4 separate regions of the Homo sapiens genome follow, and all the other regions are linked to region 2. Evidence: fine-mapped expression QTL. A gene starts in region 2. Each other region holds a variant in brackets. All regions are shown on one strand. Distances are from middle to middle.

What was found.
Region 1: its variant is fine-mapped to the expression of CHN2 in whole blood (TOPMed, PIP 0.94).
Region 3: its variant is fine-mapped to the expression of CHN2 in ovary (GTEx, PIP above 0.99).
Region 4: its variant is fine-mapped to the expression of CHN2 in monocytes (Kim-Hellmuth 2017, PIP 0.95).

The regions. Positions count from the first base shown.
Region 1 is chr7:29,151,739-29,156,888 of GRCh38, forward strand. It overlaps a transcript of CPVL not described here and a transcript of CHN2 not described here. Among named protein-coding and RNA genes, the nearest start is that of CPVL, 7.8 kb to the left of the region's middle. The variant C/T (reference allele first, on the strand shown) is at 3,075.
Region 2 is chr7:29,192,254-29,197,403 of GRCh38, forward strand. CHN2 (chimerin 2) reads left to right here and starts at 2,522. Exons shown (of 13, transcript NM_004067.4): 1 at 2,522-2,737. The coding sequence starts at 2,689. It also overlaps a transcript of CPVL not described here. RefSeq lists an enhancer at 3,175-3,810.
Region 3 is chr7:29,476,762-29,481,911 of GRCh38, forward strand. CHN2 (chimerin 2) reads left to right here. Exons shown (of 13, transcript NM_004067.4): 7 at 3,518-3,595. Among named protein-coding and RNA genes, the nearest start is that of PRR15-DT, 84 kb to the right of the region's middle. The variant G/A (reference allele first, on the strand shown) is at 2,921.
Region 4 is chr7:28,318,433-28,323,582 of GRCh38, forward strand. It overlaps a transcript of CREB5 not described here. Among named protein-coding and RNA genes, the nearest start is that of CREB5, 92 kb to the right of the region's middle. The variant T/C (reference allele first, on the strand shown) is at 2,283.

The DNA.
Region 1 (5,150 bases), 41 kb before region 2:
GCTGTGTGACCTTTGCTGTGTTAATTAACCTCTCTAAGCCTTAGCCTTCTCATGTATGGGAAGAGAACACCACCAATCCTACAAGGCTGATCTGAGGATTTGACGAAATTGTATGTATAGCCATCAACACAATGTCTGGCCCATAGCAAGCAGGTCATTCACTGGTTGAAGGAAAGACATTTGCAAAGGACAAACAGATAGTAAACAAACTCCCTTAGGTGAAGTAGTATTTGGAGTCTCCTCTTTTTCTCTTGTTTAGGTTTTATTTTATTTTCTTCGAATGGAAATAGTGGTTAGTGCAGGTGCTCTGCTTACTCATATTGTGCCTATGAAGAGTTGCATGATCCAAAGTGGGTTATCTAGAAAAGTGACTCTATAGCCTCTGAAGGGTTTTCCAGAACTTCAAGAACTAGGTCACATCACCAAATAAAGGAATACAAGTAAAATGGGCAAAAGGTATTTCTTGGTAGGAATGCTCAAGCAATTGCATAAAACCTTATGTTGCTTTTTATGCGTGGCAGCTCAGGCTAGACTGCTCAGAACTTCTTGCTGGGTTAACTGCTATGGATTTAAAGGATTCCCCCTTGATTCTGAGACAGCTACACCTAGGAGCACCAAGCAGTGAGAAAGAGAAAAGGTGCCAGAAAGCCAGTCCCCAGGTCTCTTTGTTCTCTATTCTCAGTTCCTGGCTAAATCTTTCTTGCTTTCCTCATTTGAAAATGGAAGTCATAACAACTTACCCACTCTATCCACCTTTACTGAGCCAAGGAGTCTGAATGCACTAGCTAAATGATACAGTGCCTGTCTTATGCCACATGTGACACCATGATCACTAATGTGATATAAATTGCCTGGGCTTAGTTTGTTCCCATCCACCCCACCCAGAGATCTATCAGCAAAAAGAAAAAAGGAATTATCCCTTCTTCTCAGTAGAAAAGTGACCTGACACAGAGCTGTTAAATTCTGGGCTCTTTTGCTCTGAGACGGTTGGAAGAGTTAACGCCATTTTGTCTCTTTCGGTGCACCCCATTGTTAAGTTTCTCTCAGTAAATTTTGACAAGAAACAGGCAAGCAAAACAAAATACACTCGATCCTTGTTATTCGTGGATTCCATATTTGCAAATTCTCCTCCATGGTCTGAATAACAAGGACCTCAGAATTCTTTGCCCAAATGTCCACAAGCTTGCTTCCAGAGCCTGCATGCCACTCTTCCTTGGAGTCATCCTCTATCTGAGGGGTGGCCAAAGGCCATGCTTACAGAGCTGGGATGCACAGGGAAGGATGTCCAGGAGAAGGACAGGTGTAAAGGTAGCACTCTACACCACCATGTTGTAGCACAGAACTTCAGGAAGTCTCAGAATTATAAACTCAAATTGATTATCTAGGTTGCTATCAAGGTATATCTTTCAAGGTAAGAGGGTATATTTCATTTAACAGTTTGTTCCCTGGTTTATAAGTGTTACATATCTAGACATATGGTATGTGGGCCTCTGTGTGTACTCTTGCCCCAAGCCTCCAAAGAAAGAGGCAGGCTTGGAAATAAATAAACATCTGTTGATTTAAACTACAGTTGACCCTTGAACGCATGTGTTTCAACTACACAAGTCCACTTATACACGGATTTTTTTCTAGAAAAGTGACACTGAGTGTGTCCACCTTCTCTCCCACCTCTCTACCTTTTCTGGTTTTGCCACCCCTGAGACATCAGGACCAACCCCTCTTCTTCCTTCTTCTCCTCTTCAGCCTATTCAATGTGAAGACAATGAGGATGAAGACCTTTATGGTGATCCAATTCCACTTAATGAACAGTAAATACATTTTCTCTCCCTTATAATTTTCTTTTCTTTTAGACAGAGTCTCACTCACTTTTGCCCAGGCTGAAGTGCAGTGGTATGATCTTGGCTCACTGCAACCTCCGCCTCCCAGGTTCAAGGAATTCTCATGCCTCAGCCTCCTGAGTGGCTGGGATTACAGGTGTGTGCCACCACACCCAGATAATTTTTGTATTTTTAGTAGAGACAGGGTTTCACCATGTTGGCCAGGCTGGTCTCGAACTCTTGGCCTCAAGTGATCTACCTGCCTCGGCCTCTCTAAGTGCTGGGATTACAGGCATGAGCCACCGCACCTGGCCTCCCTTATGATTTTCTTAGTAACATTTTCTTTTCTCTAGCTTACTTTCTTGTAATAATATAGTATATAATATGTATAAAATACAAAATATATTAATTGTTATGTTATAATAAGGCTTCTGGTCAACAGTAGGCTATTAGTAGTTAAGTTTTGGAGAAGTCAAAAGTTATATGTGCATTTTTGACTGCACAGGGGGTTGACAGCCCTAACCTCTGCATTTCTCGAGAGTCAACTGAACTAATATCTAGGACCTGTTTGTCACCACATCACAGCCTCATTTATTCTGACAGTTGCCCCTGGGGAGGAGGGTGGTGGGCTTCTCATTGCAGAATCTGTGGAACAGGATGCCAGCAGACAGAGGAGGGGCCCCAGCCAGCAGCTCTGAGTAAGTGAAGGAACAATAAGGGCAACAGCAGTGTAAATGCTGGAGATCAGGCCCCTCTCCATTCGTATGCAGTGAATCAGCCTCTAGCATGTCTGTATGAGCTAAATGGGTGGGGCTTCCCCATCCCTTCTCTTTGCCTCCCTTCACCTGTAGATTTTGGATGTTCCTGCCAAACTCAGCAGGTGTGAGCTCAAACTGGATTCTTTTTCAAAAACATAAAAAGAGATGACACTTCTTATACTCTAGATGTCATGAAACAGTTCACACCTGATCGATATTTAAAGAAGTATTATTATTAGGCTGGGCACGGTGACTCATGCCTGTAATCCCAGCACTTTGGGAGGCCGAGGCAGGCAGATTTCTTGAGGTCAGGAGTTTGAGACCAGCCTGGCCAACATGGTGAAACTTCATCTCTACTAAAAATAAAAAAAATTAGCCAGGTGTGGTGGCACGTACCTGTGGTCCCAGCTACTTGGGAGGCTGAGGCAGGAGAATCTCTAGAACCCGGAAGGCAGAGGTTGCAGTGAACCAAGATTACGCCACTGCACTCCAGCCTGGG[C/T]GACAGAGTGAGACTCCGTGTATTAGTCCATTTTCACACTGCTGATAAAGACATACTCGAGACTGGGCAATTTACAAATGAAAGATGTTTAATTGTACTTACAGTTCCATGTGGCTGGGGAAGCCTCACAATCATGGTGGAAGACAAGGAGGAGCAAGTCACATCTTACATGGATGGTGGCAGGCAAAGAGAAGGGTGCTTGTGCAGGGAAACTCCCCTCTTTAAAACCATCAGATCTCGTGAGACTTATTCACTGTCAGGAGAACAGCACAGGACCTGCCCCCATGATTCAATTACCTCCCACCAGGTCCCTCCCACAACACGTGGGAATTCAAGATGAGATTTGGGTGGGGACACAGCCAAACCATATCACTCCATCTCAAAAAAATAAATAAATGAAAATAAAGAAGTATTATTATTATCTAAACTTGGGTTGCACCATTTCAGGGAAAACAACTACATTTTAACAACATAAGTTAAAAAGCCATTATCAAAAATAAATAAATAGAACTCTTTCCAATGCTAAGAGGAAAGACAAGGCTGAGAGAAAAGAAAGAAATTAAAAGGTATTAAATCCTTACTACCAGCCAAAGTCATGCTAAGTGTATCACACATGAGGTCATTCAGCCCTTACTGTAACCCGAAAAGGTAGATATTATATTCTCCATTTTCTAATGGATGTAACAGAAGAATAGAGATGTTCAAACATGTGTCCAAGATCAAAGAGCTACTGAGTGTCAGAACTGGAATTCAAGCATAGGTCTCTCTGACACCAAAACTGCCATTTTTCTCACCTCTTTGTCTAGCTGCCTCCACTCCAATCTGAAGCTTGGAATACAAGCTTTGGATTCTTCCAATCATCGTCCTGCTTCCGTGTTTTTAAATCCTGTCCTTTAGCAAGGTCAACCGTGGACAGTCCTCCCTCATCGGGAGCCAGGAGGGTAGGCTGGCTGGAGGGGTCCTGTTGACAAATCTCATCCTTGTGATGGATTTTTTTTTTCTAGGCCTCAGGACACCTGGAAAGGCGAGGACATTTCTAAATGCCCTCTGTCCTTCAGACCACATCGGAGCGTCCTGTCAGGGTCTGTGAGCTGGGAAATAGGCCCTGAGCCGATAGATCTAGAGACGGCCACGTGCTCTTGCACAGCCTAGCCAGCTGTGCCCCTTGGGCTGTTAGTGAGAAAACTTACTTTTACATTTAATATTGGTTTTCTTCCCTTAAATCAAAAGAGTGCTGAGGGATAAACCGGCGAAGCATGGTGAGAGAGGGAAGAGTTAATGTGTGCAAGGTGAGCCCTCAGACAGAGAAAACTGGAAAACCATATATTTACTTTTGAGTTTTTTGACATTCAGGTCTATCTTCCATTCCCCCACTGGACTCGTCTGGTTTTGCCTGTGTTTAGAAGTTCTTCTGTGGCCTGTCGCCTTCCTTGCAAATCTGTTGCAAAGTAATTACATCTTAGTATTGGGATCTGTGTTTCAAAAATGTCAAAACAAATTTCGATGATTAAATGCCAAAATTAAGCTTGGTACTTCTCTAAAATTGATATGAAGGACACATTTTAATTAGAAATTATAAATCTGAGGCACTGTACCATCAAGCTACCTCCAAAACCCGAAAACTCCATAAAGCTCTAGCTCTGAGGAAAAAAAAGTTAAATTCAATCTAAAGATGGCGATCTTGTGAAATAACCAGCCATATGTCATCTCCTTTTATTGGGGCTGAAATTTTGCCCTGAGGCATCTGAAGGAACTCAGCTAAGGCATCCCCGATAAAGGTCATCTGTGAGGGAAACTTTGTGGGTTTTTTTTCCTCTTTAGATATCTATAAACGCTAATTAAATATGCATTATTGGTGTAATTTTGACCAAGGAGCTTTATGTTAGTATGAAAGCGACTATGTATTACTCTCCAGCACAGCTTACACAAGCATTATGCTAAATTATCAGATTTTTAGCTTCTGCATAGCTAAAGAAAAAGTCCAAGAAGTCATAATTCTTTATCAAAACTGACAGTGGATTATGCACCTGGAGATCTATCTAGCAAAATCTGCCTTGCATTCTCAACATGAAAATC
Region 2 (5,150 bases):
CAGGGCCTTCAGGTGGTGCCTTCACAGCAAATACCCCCGTCCCTTCATCTGTCAATTTAGGACAATAAAAATAATCTGCCTCACAGAGCCATGCTTTACTTTCTCCAGTTAAAACACTATGAAGGGAAATATGAGTATCCGAACTGCAGAAACATAATCTGTTGTCCTTTTGTGAAATTTCAGAGATGAATAATGAAACCTGTTACCCTATTGCACAATTTGGGACAAGAAATATAAGCCATAGATTGAAGATAAGACATTTCCCCCTAGTAGAACAGGTCACAGTTGATTAGTTATCTCCAGATGCAATGAAGAAAGCAAAAATTTTTCAAACTATACATTCCTTCCTTAAAGTGAGCAACTTACAATCACTTTGGAACACAAACTTCATGCCAGGTACACTGTAGCTTTCCACATAGCATCTTATTTAATCTTCACAGCATCCTGTGTTATCAGATTTTTGTGGCAGGTGTAGAAACTGAGGCTCAGTAGGTCTAAGTAATTTGCTCAAGTTCGCAGCTAAGTGACAGAACCAGAGTTTGAACCCAGTTGTCTTCGAAGCCCAGATGGTAAAATTCTACCGGGCGACATAGCCAAGTCAGATAGTCCACCATCTAAAGATCTGGGGGGCTACATAGATTACTAGTCAAACAAGTAAGTGCTGTTTTCTATCAGAAGAACTCTGGGGAAACAGTAAGTTCCTTCTGATCTGATCAACAAGCCAAGTGTGTGATGGGTCACGTGTCCCTGAAGGCTCCAGATTAGGAACTGCATCATTTCGTGCAGTCCACAAAATGAAGGATAGTGGTAGGGGCTGGGAAAATGCGGGCGCTTGGGTCTCCTTAGACCAGCCAGGGCTGTTTCAAGGTCCATACAGTTGAGGGGTAGGAAGACGCAGTCCCACGTGACTGAAGAGTGCTCACACTCCTTTAACAGTTTAGCAAGGTGTATTTTTAAAAAATGGACCTTAATGAGAAGACACACTGGGATAGTATCCTGGAGGGATTTTTTTTTTTAAGTTCTAATCAACTAGAAAATGTGACGTGGGTGCGTACTGTGATTATTTAACATTCATTATTCACTGTATGTTAGGTCCTTGGTTGATGTGGATCCCCAGGGCCTAGCTGCTGTTCTGTGTCACTCCTGATAATTTTTAAATTGACTATGTTCTTTTAACCATGTTTTAAAAAGTTGAACTACCCCAATGTGAACACTTTCCATTTTTGCTATATAATGAGAGTACTTTCATTCCTTTAATGTTTGCTTTTTCCTTTGATCTAACAATTTCTCTTCAAATTTCACAGTTTTCTGTTGCTTTAGGATTGAAAGAACCGATTAGCCCGCTGGGAGCGTGAAACAGACTTAAAAAAAATCTGCATGGTATTTCCTCCCAGTGAAATTAATTTAGGTTTAAATACAGGGGGAAGGGACACACCTTGTGCTCGAGTCTCTTTCTCTCACACACCTGAGCAGTTCCTATCCTGAAAGGGCACAGTCGGACCTGCTGCCAAGTCTTAAGTCTTTTGTGAGAATCTTTTTTTGCAAGGCACGGAGAACCTCTTTCTCTTTGACACCAGCTTTGTGTGGGCCTGATGACACGTTTGGACGGCTCTATTTCTTTGAAGGCCAACCTCAGAGGCCCACGGACGCGTCGGGCACTGTCCGTGGCTGGGTTACTTAAGTGTAGCTGGGTTGGCTTCCCGGGTGTTTTAGGAAACGCACCTTCTTGCAGGGCAGGGACCGTCAGCTCCAGAGCAACAAAGGACAATTTGGAGAGGAGTGGAAGGAGCGCTCCATAGTGGCTCTGTCATCCCAGGTTCCCTTCTGCCTAGCACCGTGGCCCTAGTGATCCCGCCTTCGCCCTCTGGATCCCCCACCCCCACTGTCTCGCTGCTCGAGAGCCCGGCGGGGCGCGGTGAGCCCCACCACCTTCCCCCACACCCTCCCTCCCCATCCCCTTCAAATCCTAGGAGCAGCGCTGCGCGCAGCAGCCGCGCTCGCCCCGCGCCCGGCCCCGGCCTCCCCAGCACCCCGGGGACCCGGTCCCCCGTCCCGCCTCCCCCTGTCCAGCAGTCCGCAGCCTCCCCCTCCAGCCCCAGTGGCGGGAGCTGTCAAGCCCGCAGCAGCCGAACCACCCCCCGAGCGACCGCGTCTCCTCTTCTTCCTTTGTGTGTGCGCGAGCGGAGTTGGGGCGGAGGGAGAAGGGGGAGGTCGCTCTGTCTGTCCGTCTCCCGCCGCCTCTGCCCGGTCTACTCGAAGTGCGGCGGGAGAGGCGGGAGCCCAGGAGAGGGTGCGGGAGCTGGCGGGGCGGCTCGGAGCTGCCAGGACGCCCTGGTCCCAGCCGCGCACAGGGGAGCGTGGACGGCAGAGGGGCTCGGCGGGAGCCGAGATCCGCCCGTCCCGGCTGCCCCTCGGCCTCCCTCTGCTCCCACCTACCCCCTGACACCCATAGAAAAGCGTGCAAAGGCGCGGAGCGGGACGGAAACCACAAATAAATAGCGGCGGCGGCAGCGCGTCATCTGGTGGAGCAGGAAGTGCAGGCAGAGTCCGGAGGCTGGTGCTTTCTGCGCGTCCCCAGGACTTTGCCATGGGCTGGGGGCCGCGGAGGCTGCGAGCGGCCGGGCGAGGGCAGCGGCGGCGGCGTCCGCACCGGGGCTGAGCGAGCAGCGACGCGAGGGGCGCGCGGAGATGGCAGCGTCCAGCAACTCCAGCCTGTCCGGCTCGTCGGTGTCCTCCGGTGAGTTTCAGCCCGTCGGGCGCTGCTGCCGCGCCGGGTCTCGCCCCACTGCCCTCGCCCCGCAGCCTGGGATGGACAGAGCCTACCTGTGGCCATCCCGCCCGCTCTCTCGGAATGGGGGCAGGCGTCCGGGGTGATACTTGTTTGGTTCGCCAGCACCTCGGTGCCCAGAGCACCTCCGCGCCTGACATCTGACAGCGCAGAGGTGGGAGAGCGGTGGTGCCCTTAGTGTGCGGACGCGGGTGTTCCGGGGCTTGGAGTGCAGCGAGCGAAAAGCGAAAGGAGCGGGCAGGCTCGCACTTTCTGGCGCAGCTGGAGCGGGGGCTGGCGGGGCGGAGAAGGTTGGGGTGAAGCAGAGCGCCCCGACCTGTTTGCCGTGCCGCGCCCGCTACCCTGGACACCCAAATCCGGAGCAGAGGGGAGCAAACCCTCGCTCCTCGCAGACTTGATTTTCTTTGTTTGTTTCAGAAATTAGCTCTATGGAGACACTCGCTTGGGCATGGGTTTTAGACAGCAGCAATGAAGGGATGTATCTTTCTGATCCTGATTGAAGTGGGTTAGGGGAAGAGAGGTCGAGCCCATCCTCTGACTCTTGGCACATTTACGAGAGAGAGAGAGAGAGAGAGAGAGAGAGAGAGAGTGTGTGTGTGTGTGTGTGTGAGAGAGAGAGAGAGAGAGACTCCTTAGAGATTTTCTGATAATAGTGGCTGTAATTTCACTAGCAAGGCATGCATTTTTTTTCCTTTTAAGAATGGTTGAGCAAAGGGAAGGCTTCTTTCAGCTTTTCTATGGTTGATCATCGGGTCTAATTGAAGAGAAAAAAATTGCTAATGAATCTGAAGGAGTAGGAATCAATAGAGGCAGACCCACTGGTTTCTGAGTATGACAGGTTTCTAATCAGAATGATGCATTAGGTAGAATTCCTGTACCTCTCTGGTCATTGAAAACTTTAATGACAAACCCAAAGGGATAGCTGATAAGACATTTAGGGTAGTATACAGTATTTAAGGGTCAAGAAGGTCATGAAGTCCTAATGGAAGTGCTTCAATATATTAATATTGTATTAAGTCCCATTGGGCTGTTTTTATTATTATTCGCGAATTAAACTCAAAGGAAGAAACACCTTTTTGGAGGCATTGGATAGCAAGCAGGGCAAAAAGGCAACCACAGCTTTAGATGTGTAACTCACTAAATCATAAATGCAAGGTGAATTTGACTAAGGTGCAATTGTGATGTGGCACAAGGTGATCACTTGAAAGCCATCTGTTATCTTTCTTGGCAGATTTACTTCCTGGGAAATGGCACTTCCTTTCTCGATCACTGCCAACTAATTGAAAACACGTTGTTGTTAGGTGTGTGATATAGTTCAAGTTTCTAGTAGTGGCAGCCAATGGGGCAGAAGTCATATCTTATTAAGAGCAGCAACAAGTTGACCGCCGTGGTTTTAATTCTGAGAACTCAGCAAATGCTACAGTTTATTTTTAGTACCCTCAAACCACTGCTGCTGTTTTTCAATTCATTTTGGTTGACTAACATTGAATTTAAAATACAGTGGTGTTGGCTTTCTATTAGCATATGGTTATCCCTCTCAGAAAACTGCCCACTAGAAAATGAACTGGTGGGGCAAAAGAAAAGACGAAAGGAGAAAGGACAAGGAGCTGGTGGTGTCACATGATTTACTGGTGGCATGAATTACAGCTGCTGTGGCATCTGAATTTCCAGATCTTGATGTAGCTTAAGAAACCTGATTGAAAATCCTAAGTCAGCCTTCGGAAGAATACGTTGGTTTGAAACAACACAGTATGAGATTTAGATGATGGTAATTGCTTTCAGATAGGTTAGAGATGCCCATGATAGTTCTTTTTCCTGCTTTATTTACCCCTATTTTTAATCCTAAGGGAAAATGGGAAATTATGTGAAAACTGAAATTCAAAAAGTGGGCATGGATGTATTGTTTGGCATGAATCAGCCTAGCCCATGAGTTTATACTGCCTAATTCCCCAATTAATCAGGCACTTTGTCTTGAAAAATACAGCATTGTAGTTCTCTTTTAAAGCACACTTACCATTGTGTGGATCATGAATAATTCAGATGACACAAGCAATTCACACCTGTGAGAGGTGTTGGGCAGAAAGAATAGAGTCTATTTGTGGTGGCAGCTGGGCTCTCTCAGGGGAAGGCCAGAATCTGAGAAATTAGGGCACTCCGTCAATGTATTAATCACTATTTTCAAGGGCCTACTATGTGCCAGGCAGTAAGTTATAAACCTCAGCTTCAAGAAGGCTAAGGGGGAAAGATAATTGTAGGATTCCCTCTAGCTCTGAAGTTCTGGGAGTATTGTCTTTTAATTCTGGCTTCATCACCGACCAGCTGGGTATCTTGGAGTGAGTTACTTAACTTCTCCAAGCCTCAA
Region 3 (5,150 bases), 280 kb after region 2:
TCTAGTGAATACAGGCAAAGAATGCCACTGAACATCCTGCAACGTACAGGACAGCCTCCCACAACAAAAGATTATCTGGCCCAAAAGACCATTCGTTCCAGTGAGAATCCCTGGTTCAAACAGAGCATGTAGGGAAATGTGCTTCATCTCATGAATGTATATATTAAAATAGGTCAGGTAGAAATTTTCATTAGAAGAAGACGGTCAGCAAATGTATTAAATGTCCCTTGTGTATAGAGAACACTATATTAGACATTACGGAGCATATAAAATAAGGCAAGGAGCTGTCCTTGAGGAGCTGAGATAAAAAAGAGCTCTGTGTGATGGGGTTATTTCAGAGAGAAGTTTTCGCCAAGAGATTACTGTAATCAGTTTTCCCTTAATAAGAGGGTGATCTGAGGTCACCCACACTGCTCCCAGTAATGCTCGCTCAAAGGCTAACACTTCTAGTCCCCTGTAAAGAAGCATCCTAAGGGAATAGTGTTGGTTCCTTCACTTGTCTGAATGTGTCTTGTGTTTGGGTAAATTCTATTGAATCAATAGCTGAAAAAGAAATCACTGTCACAAATGGAAATAAAAATTACTTGTTATACATACAAGCACAGACATGAAAAAATATTAAATCTCATTGTATTCAACCATCCATAGACCAAAAGGAGGAGATTCTTTTGGCCACTTTCCATGTAAATAGTTATTTGATCAGATTCTAAAAATGGTATATTCATGTCATTAGTCCAGTCCACATCACAGAATTTGCCCTTACACAAATGGCTCACCATCAAAAGGTCTCTCTCGCTTTGCTAGCAGTGAAGGTTGGGAAAGGACCCTTTTTGCTTCTCTCCATCTTTTTACCTGTAGACTAAGGATGGGAAGCCCTGCAAAGGTATGCCAAGCCTTCACTTAACGCCTGCCATAACAGTTGTCCTTCAGAATGGGACAGTGGGAAGAAGGGCCAAGGGGCCTGGTGAAGCCCATTAAGAGAGTAGACCCCTGGAGGGAACCTTGTCTTTGGAAGCTGAGGCAGTGGATGGGTGGTCACAGGAGGGACTGGAGACCCCGCACCATGCAGTCCTCTTTGCACACCTTCTTCCACAACCCTGGCTTCCTATATGTACATGTGCTTTCTAGCAACTTATATTTATTCAGTGTCTACTGTGGCAAGGACTCTTATTAGACACTTTTGTAGGGGGAAACAAAAGCAAATTAAGCATAGAGCATGTCACAGTGAGTTCTCAGTGTGGCAGGGATAAGAGCTGTTATAGTCACTATAATACAAGACAGAAAGTGACAAGTGCAATCAGAAAAATGTGGATAAAACACTATGGGATTTCAGAGGACACAGTTGGCCTTCAGTGGGGAGTCTGGGGAAGTCCTTTTGGAAAGGGTAGCATTAGAATCAGAATGTAAATGTTGGTGAAAATGTAGATATGTTGAAAGGATGCTAGAATATTCTAAAGAACAGAGCAAGCTACCAAGGTTAGCAGTTAAGTATGTCACAGAAGAGATGTTGTAGGATTTGTGGAGGGGAGTGTAGGGAAATAGGATGAGCTGGGTACATTAGGATCAGCTCATGAAAAACCAGCAATGCCAGGACACAGTTAAGCTATGGAGAAGCATGGGTGGATTAGGAAGATTGTTGTAGAGCGATGTGTAAGGTGGACTGGAGAGATAACAAGGGTCTGAGTTATGTGGGGAAAGAAAGGTAGGGAGAGGCCAGACTCAACCAGTATCTGAGATAAAGCATTTGTCAGGACTGATGGCAGGATGAGGCAGCACATGGGTGTACCGAGGCAGCAGGACACAGTGTTGAGGAGCATGGGCGCTGGACACAGATGCTTTGTGTTCTAGCCCTGGTTCTGCCACTTAAACTAGGCTGCATGTCCTTGGGCAAATTGCTTTACCTCTCAGTGCCTTGCTCTCTTCATCCAAAAGAATCGGGAATAAAAATCTTGCTCCTCACACCCATATGCTGCAGATTAAATGAGTTAAGTGCCTTTGACACATTCTAACGTCCTCTGACACAGCGTAAATTATTGTGCTCAATAGCTTAACGTAAAAATTGGGTGTTATTATTGAAGGTCATGAGAGGATGAAATGGGAGGATGAACTTTTGAACCAAGTTAAAATCATGGTGTTTACCAGGAATAAAGAATTACACATGGGAAGGAGTGATCTTTGGTTACTCTTCACAAGGCTGCTTGGAGGGACTGCAGCATGGGGCCCTTGTTTGAGTAGAGGACAGGACTGCCCATCTACATAAAGGCCCAGTTATCTAGATCTTGTTTTCTAGTTCCTAAAGCATTAATTTTACTGTCTGGCATTAGCTGCATTAATCTTCACCAATGAGTCAGGAGTACTCCCAAGACATCAGGATTTCCCTGCTTCTTTTCATGGGGAGACCTAGGATCAAAGAATTAGGGTCATGGGAGACCATCAAACAGATGATGCTTTTAAGAGGAAGGAGGCCATTTTCATAGGCTTGGGCACTAACAGAATGAACACTGAAGATGTTTTATTTAAAAGAAAAGCAATTATGATGTTTTGATTTTAGGTAAGGAATATTGTCTTGTCTGTGTGGGTTTGAGCAGAGTTTGTTCGTGCAGGAAGGACAGGAGAGACCGGGGAGTGTCCTGAGGCAAGACATCCTGCCTCTTATTCTGCAACTTTGCAGAACTCAGAGTGGAAAAGCTTTGCTCTCCTCTGATATCCCATTTGGTGCTCAGACTGTTCCAATGTAATGCATGCATAAGAATAAAAATTAAGCTTTCAAGTGCTAAGGCAGATTTTTAATAAAGAGACATAGGCTTTACCCCTATAAGATTAAACAGTCATCAGGGTTTAAAGGTTTAATCTGTTGGAGCTCAGCCCAGGATGGGGTTCAGAGCCCCAGATTAATTGGATGCAGCCTCAGACTTTGAAC[G/A]TCAGAGCTGGCTGGGGGGTGTGTGCGCTGGTGTGTTTGAGTGTGAAATGTGCTAATAAGGAGGAGAGACCTCTCCTTTGCAATGTGCTGCGGCAGGAGAAAGCAGGCTGCCGGCCCCTGCCTCCCTGAATCCTCAGTGGCTGACTGGATACCGCTTCTGGGGGTTGCTGTGCACATGAATGTTTGCTATTGTTCCAGGCGCACGTCGGCCTTAAGAAATAGCACAAAACAGGCCCATCCTTATTCAGAAGCCGGGCCCCCTCCATCACTCAAACTGGGCCTTTCAGGTCACATGCCGGAGGCTGCTGCAGACAGGACCCAGCTGCCTCAAATCTGCCGCCTAACATAAGCTGCGGTTCGAAAATCCTGACAGCACAGGGCTTCCTGGGCTCTGCAGAGCAAACTGGAAAGAGCTGGGATCCAGGCACTATGTTCTCTGAAGAACTGTGGCTGGAAAATGAGAAAAAGTGTGCTGTGGTTCGGAAGTCTAAGCAGGGCAGGAAACGCCAAGAACTGCTGGCCGTAGCCTTCGGGGTGAAGGTGGGTGTCAAAGGCGGCTTTCTTTGGCCCCCTCTCAAACTCTTTGCCTGTTCACAGATCTCCTCCCTGGTTCGAAGGGCTGCCCTCACACACAACGACAACCACTTCAATTATGAGAAGACACACAACTTTAAGGTAAGCAAGCCTCTGCATTCCTTCTTCTGTTACAAAAGGGCAGGTGGAAAGGTACAGTGTATAGTTTCCGTCTGGTTTCTGACTGTAAAGTCAAGAGACAATGAATTCCTTTGCTTTCCACATTTAGCTATAAGCTTAACACCTGCGCTTTCTGTCAGTTCAAACTGGAGACCTCAGAAAGCAGTCTGCTCAGTGCTTATGCCTGGAAACACCTTATCTGGATGTTGACTTAGTTTTGGAGAATTGGGCCCATTGCCACTTCACGTTCCCATGTCCAGTGAAATAAACACAGAGCATGCCCAGTCTCTCTCAGTCAGAGATGTTCTGCTGAGAGCTGAGCAGTACTTTTCCACTCAGTAAAGAATATTGCTGTCTCCGAGCAAGGGAAAACAGTTGCCTGTTTCTCGTTTTGTGTTTTGTCTTTTGTTTTCAGTGATGCTAACTCCTTTCCTTTATGCGTAGACACCTGTGAAATCAAATAATGACAGGAGATGCCATCCAGAAGCTTTTATTTGTGCTCCGGGTACGGCTAGCAGGGGGGGCACCCTTGGTCACAGCCTTTATCCTGCTCACCAGACCAAACAAAAAGATCTGGAAACCTGGTGAGGGGTTAAGTGGAATTTCCCAAGTGAATTTATAAACTGGAAAGACCGCTATGTTCGTTTCAGACTGGTACTTGTAGAAGGGGCCTGCCATCAGAAAATTATGGCCTGTTTCCTTTGCCCAAGTGTTTTCCAAGAAGGGCTGGAAAGGGATGCTGCTGCCAAATTGTCTAGCTTGAATTGCAGTTGAGAGGAGGAGAGACAGGTTAGAGTTAGAGGCTTCACCCCAAAAAGTGAGCTGGCAGTTTGAAAGTTGGGGAGAGTGGAGATGGAGGATCCAGGAAGAAAACAATAGGCAGGAGAAGCAAAATGTGAATTGCTTTCTTTTAAAAAAATTCTTGTTTCCTTTAGGGTCAGTAACCCAAGTGACTCTTGGAATTAGATAACCCTTTTGTCAGAGGTGACGAGGGAAACTGATTTTATTCTGTTGCTTTCCGATCCTTTCTGAGGACAAATATTCATCTATTAAATATACATTGGTGTTAGTTTGGTCTGTTTCCCTGCATCTGTTTTTAGAAAGCCAGCAGCTCAGGCATTTGCATGCTATAATTGAACTGAGGAATGGAATTATACAGCCCTACATACTTAGCATTAGGGTGAAGAATTGCATTGCATAGGTCCTCTTCTATGCCAAAGCTTTTCATATTTCTCCCGTCACTGAATATTGACAGGTCTAATTTGGAGCATTAAATGCCTCCCGTTTTTTTTTTTTTTTTTACTCTGTTTTCCATTTTTATCCTCATTAATTTTTTTTGGCCTTAAGAAAGTGTTTTTTTGATTTTTAGCAGAAATCCTTGATTTTTTTGCATCCTGTGGATACACTACTAGTGATGAGAGGATGGATCTTCATGGACTTGTAAATTCTTTTTCTTCCTCTTGAAAATTCCAATTCATTTGGCGTTAAGAAATTGGAATTATGCCATACTATAATATGTTTGCATGGAGTAGCTTGT
Region 4 (5,150 bases), 870 kb before region 2:
TTTTCTAAGTTTCAAAATATGTTTACTGCATGCCTTGAGGCATTGGTGGGTTAAATTGAAAATGTATTATTCATTTTAGAAAAAGTATGACTAACAATACACATATTTCCAACATCACTGATTCTCTATAGAGCCTCCCTTCTCTGCTACAATGCCTCACTCTCAGGGTTGCCTGAGACAGGAGTTGGACCACATGGCTTGACCCAGGAGGCATGTTCAGGCTGAAAGAGACTGAGAGACAGAACCAGTTCCTGGTTCAGGGATCGTGCCTAAAATGTCCTGCATCTAGTTCTACAGAATGAAATACTAGACTCTTAGAAGAGGCACAGAATATCATCGTAAATACAGCATCCTATGCTGCTACATTGAAGAGGAAGAATTTCAAGGCTCATCAAAATCAAATTGCTTAGGCTTCTGTAGATTGATAATATAACACCTGGAAATAATTATGTGGGGAAGAAAAACAAAAAGTACCAGAAAAGTCCTCCCAAATATCATCTACTCAATAGATTTTGATTCTGGACTGACATTCTATCTGTGGCACTTCAAGCAATTCGACTAAAGGAAGCCCGCTTATCTGTATGTTAAATGTACTAAGTCAGTGGGTGGAGTGACATATGGGGTCATTCCAATACTCTTTTCTGGTTTCTTTAAGGTCAGGGCCTAGAATGTACCTTGAGACCTGTTCCCCAGCTTGAGAAGGAGAGGGAGCCATAAGGAAAAACTCCAGTGGAGGGAAAGGAAGAAAATGGCATCTCCTAATAGGTGTGCCATATTACATGGCCTGTATAGAAGATCGGTGGGTCAAAGGGCAACTGAAAAACTCACTAGTAAGGGCAAAAAGGGCTTGTTTCTCTTATAGAGTAATTCCTGTGTATCTTATTTATCTTTCACTTGTGCCACTCATTTACATAGAATACCTTTGCCCATAAGTTGGAGTATTTTTACCCCTCAATGTTGGCAAGTTGCAGGGTAGCTTTATGGTAAAAGAGAGCAAAGGTGTGTCGTCCTTTGATTCCCAAGATTCCTAGTGGAAGTATTTTCTTTGTTATTCTCTGAACAAAAGATAAAGAGGAGGCTGGACTTCGGAGTATTTGTGAAAATGCTATTTCTAGCCCTCCATCCACACAGTGCCTTTCGGTGTTCATCTGGAGGTGATGAAGGTGGATGCAGGTGACTCCTCCGCTCTACCCATGCTCACAGCCCAGCCCACTCTTCTCAAGAGTGCCCCACCATTTCCCCATCAAGTCCAAAGGCAGCACCAGAAGGGTAGAGTGAGCATCCCCGAAGTCTGTGTCTTTATTATTTCCGTGGTCTGCTTCAAGTGTTATCCCATGTGCTTGGGGTAATGTGTTTGTTTAATTGATGAAAACTCTAGGTGGCAGGAGGCTGGGAAGGTGGCTAGGCTTTTTCATATTTATTCTCATGGAAAACATTCCCCTTTATAAATCTTTTTGCTACAAATAGTGTTTTTTTTTCTTTTATGTAATTTTCTTAATTTTTAAAAAAATTTTTTGAGACAAGTTCTCGCTCTGTCACTCAGGCTGGAGTGAAGTGGTGTGATCTTGGCTCACTGCAACCTCTGCCTCCTGGGGTCAAGTGGTTCTCATACCTCAGCCTCCCAAGTAGCTAAGACTACAGCTGCGTGCCACCATGCCTGGCTAATTTTTGTATTTTTAGTAGAGACGGGGTTTCGCCATGTTGTCCAGGCTGGTCTCGAACACCTGACCTCAAGTGGTCTGCTTGCCTCGGCCTCGGATATGCTGGAATTACAGGCATGAGCCACCACGCCTGGCCGCTTTTATGTAATCTTGATGTAACACCAATCCCATGTAGTCGGCACAAATTATAAAGTGTGTAAATGACTGGTGAAAAAATAATGCCCTTCTCAAAGAGAAGATAATTCCATTACAGGGAATCTAGGGGCCGTTCAATGCCAGAGGATCCCACCCAGGAAAGCTGGTGGCTGCAGGGATAAAAGCCAGCAGTTTGGAAAGAAACACCTATAAGAACATGGACCACGTAGGAGCCTAGCTTCAAGCTCCGCTTTACCAGGCTTCCCTTCCCCTTTGCTGAATTGCAGCTCCTGATCCTGCCTGCATCCTACTGGCCTGTGTTACATAAAGATCTAGTTCTGGAATACAGGAAATATGGTGGAGATTGTTCTATGTTAAGGTTCCAAGCCAAGTACGGGCCCATATCCTCAGCTAAGATAATTATTGGTGGGTGAATAAATTAGGCTTGCCGACACTTGTCTGTTTAAGCAAAGACAGCATTTTAAA[T/C]ATTAGAAGAATGTCCACTTCACTCTACAGAGTCAACATTATTCAGCACTTCCATTAGCTGTGGATTACCAAAGCAGAAGACAATTCTTAAGTTAAGAAAATTTTATGAGTGAAAAGACAAATGTAAGCAAAGTGGATACATATTCTGAAAGTTTTATGTAAAAACCAAGGTGCAGGTGCAAGTATATGTAATTGATACGTAATGCAGAGAGGCAGAATGGGAGAGCAGAGGAGAACACGGACTCGGGAGCAAGATGGCCTAGGTGTGGAGCATGGCTCTGCCACTGACTACCTGGGAAACCCTGGGCAAATTACCTGACCTCTCTGGGCCTTGCTCTCTCCTCATCTGTACAATGGGGCAATGATAGAACTTGTCTCAACGGATTGTAGAGAGGATTAAACACGCTAGAGCATGTAAAGAACTTGGACACACTGCTTGACACTTAGTAAGTGTTGTGAAAGTATTAGCTTCCTAATGCAAGCATTGTCTTTGCCTCTTCATCCTCTTTTTTTTTGTACCCTTCATCCTCCTCTTCTTTTTCCTTCTCCTCTTTCTGTCTCTTTTCCTCTTCCTCCTCGTCCTTCTTTATTAGCATGATTGTACATGCGAAATGGCCAGGGCTGGCTATATAATTTGTCGAGCACAGGACAAAATGAAACTTCAGGGCCTCTTGTCCAAAAATCAGGGGGAAAAAACATTTCTTTTTCTTCTATCTCTCTCTCATACCCAATCTATCACAGGGTTCTTTGTTGGCTATTTATTGACCCATCTTCTCTCAGGCACGTATATTCTCTGGGCAAGTATAGACTCACAAGTGCCTGGAGTCCCTCCTCGAAATTTGGTGTGTGAGTGTGCGCCCAACTCCACCCTTTGCTGTGTTTGTGTCCAGCCTTTTGCCAGGGGTGAGGTGACAGAGATCACTGGGCTAGGGGCAGGAGAGGGTTGGCAGAGAACCCATCCCAGGGAGGCAGGGAGGTGGTGAGTGGGGGACTGCACAGGAGCAGAGGCCCCAAGCCCTAGTGCACACTTCATTGTTCCACTGGACTTCACTTAGGAGAAACACATTCAAAGGTAAAATTATTAAGAATTTTCAACATGATCACAGAGCGCCGATGCTCCAAGGGGTGGCCCCCTTCTGAGTGTGGGACCCTGTGTCAGATACATGAAGTTGGCACTGACAGTAGCAGAAAAGATGTGAAGTTAGCAATCAACGAAATCCCATTTTGGTTATTAAGTGATTCTTTGGCTTAAGATGTAGAAATTGGATTTTATTATCAGTTTTAGTGAGACGAACACAAATTAGGTAACTCATTTTATCCATTTATTAAACTTAGGGAGAAAAATGCACATTTTAACCAACTGGTCTACCCCAGAGATGTAGTAAAAAAGTAGCTTTTAAAAAGACCTTTGTGCTCTTCTACCCAAAAGCATTAGATGGGCATTTTCCAAAGTGTGTTACTTGAGAAAAGGGTTCTGTGAGGAACAATTGGCTCCTTGGGTAAAACAGAATTAACGGATTTTTGAAATTCAGGACTACCCACTTACTAAGTGGGTAGTCTAATTGTTTTTCTGTTTATTTACCTTAGGTCTTACTCTTTTCCAATTAATCATCTTAGACTTTGGAAGGTGAGGGGAAACATGGAAGCAGAGTCCATTTAGCAAGCTGAGATATTGTCAAATTTCAAAATGAATTTTTAAAATTAAATTTAATTTTTTTATTTTAAAAGTTTTACTTTAAGTTCTGGGATACATGTGCTGAACATGCAGATTTGTTACATAGGTACACATGTGCCATGGTGGTTTGTTGCACCTATCAACCCATCATCTAGGCTTTAACCCCCTAATACATTAGGTATTTGTCCTAATGCCCTCCCTCCCCCAGCCCCCCACTCCCCGACAGGCTCTGGTGTATGATGTTCCCCTCCCTGTCTCCACATGTTCTCATTGTTCAATTCCTACTTGTAAGTGAGAACATGCAGTGTTTGGTTTTGGTTTTCTGTTCCTGTGTTAGTTTGCTGAGGATGATGGTTCCCAGCCTCATCCATGTCCCTGCAAAGACATGAACTCATCCGTTTTTATGGCTGCATAGTATTCCATGGTGTATATGTGCCACATTGTCTTTATCCAGTGTATCCAAAATGAATTTTTAATCTTAAATGTAACTGGCCTCTCAGTTCTTCCACCATGTCCCCTCCAATGATCATTTTCTATAATTATCCACTCCTAAGACCATATTCTTAGTCCCCTCCCTCTGTCCTTTAGCTAACCAACTCTAGTACTCACTAGTAATTCTTCTGCCTTGTTGACGAATTGACCACCAACAAATCATTGACCAGCACTTTAATACCTCCCTTAGTGCCCTCATTTCCTTCTGTATCCAGCTTAATGACCATGCCCTGTCACTAGGAACATTAGCACCCTAATTCTTTCATACCCTCCCCTCACCGAACTTGGCTGGGAGAGCCCCAATCCTGGTTAAAACCCACAACTACCTACTATGTGCCTGCACTTGGTTGGAGAAAAACCCACAACTGTGCTGACTGTTCTCACTTTAAATCCTTGCCCTCAAATCTCAAATGGACATTCAACGTAGCAGCAAATCTTATTTACTTCACTTTTCCATGCTTCAAAATTACTCTTTTTATCCCTTCTCCTCTTCCCTTCCTCCGTGTTCCTATCTTGGGACCCTGCTTCATTCTTCATTGGAAAAATAGAAGCAACTAGGTAGTAATTCTTTTACTTTTTTTCAGCAGTTAATCTACCCATACCCTTTTCCTTTCCTTCTTGTGTCATAAACAAAGTGCCCCTTCATCCTCTCAAGGAGTTATTCTTACTCTGTACCACTTTTCGGCTCCTGAACTCTTATC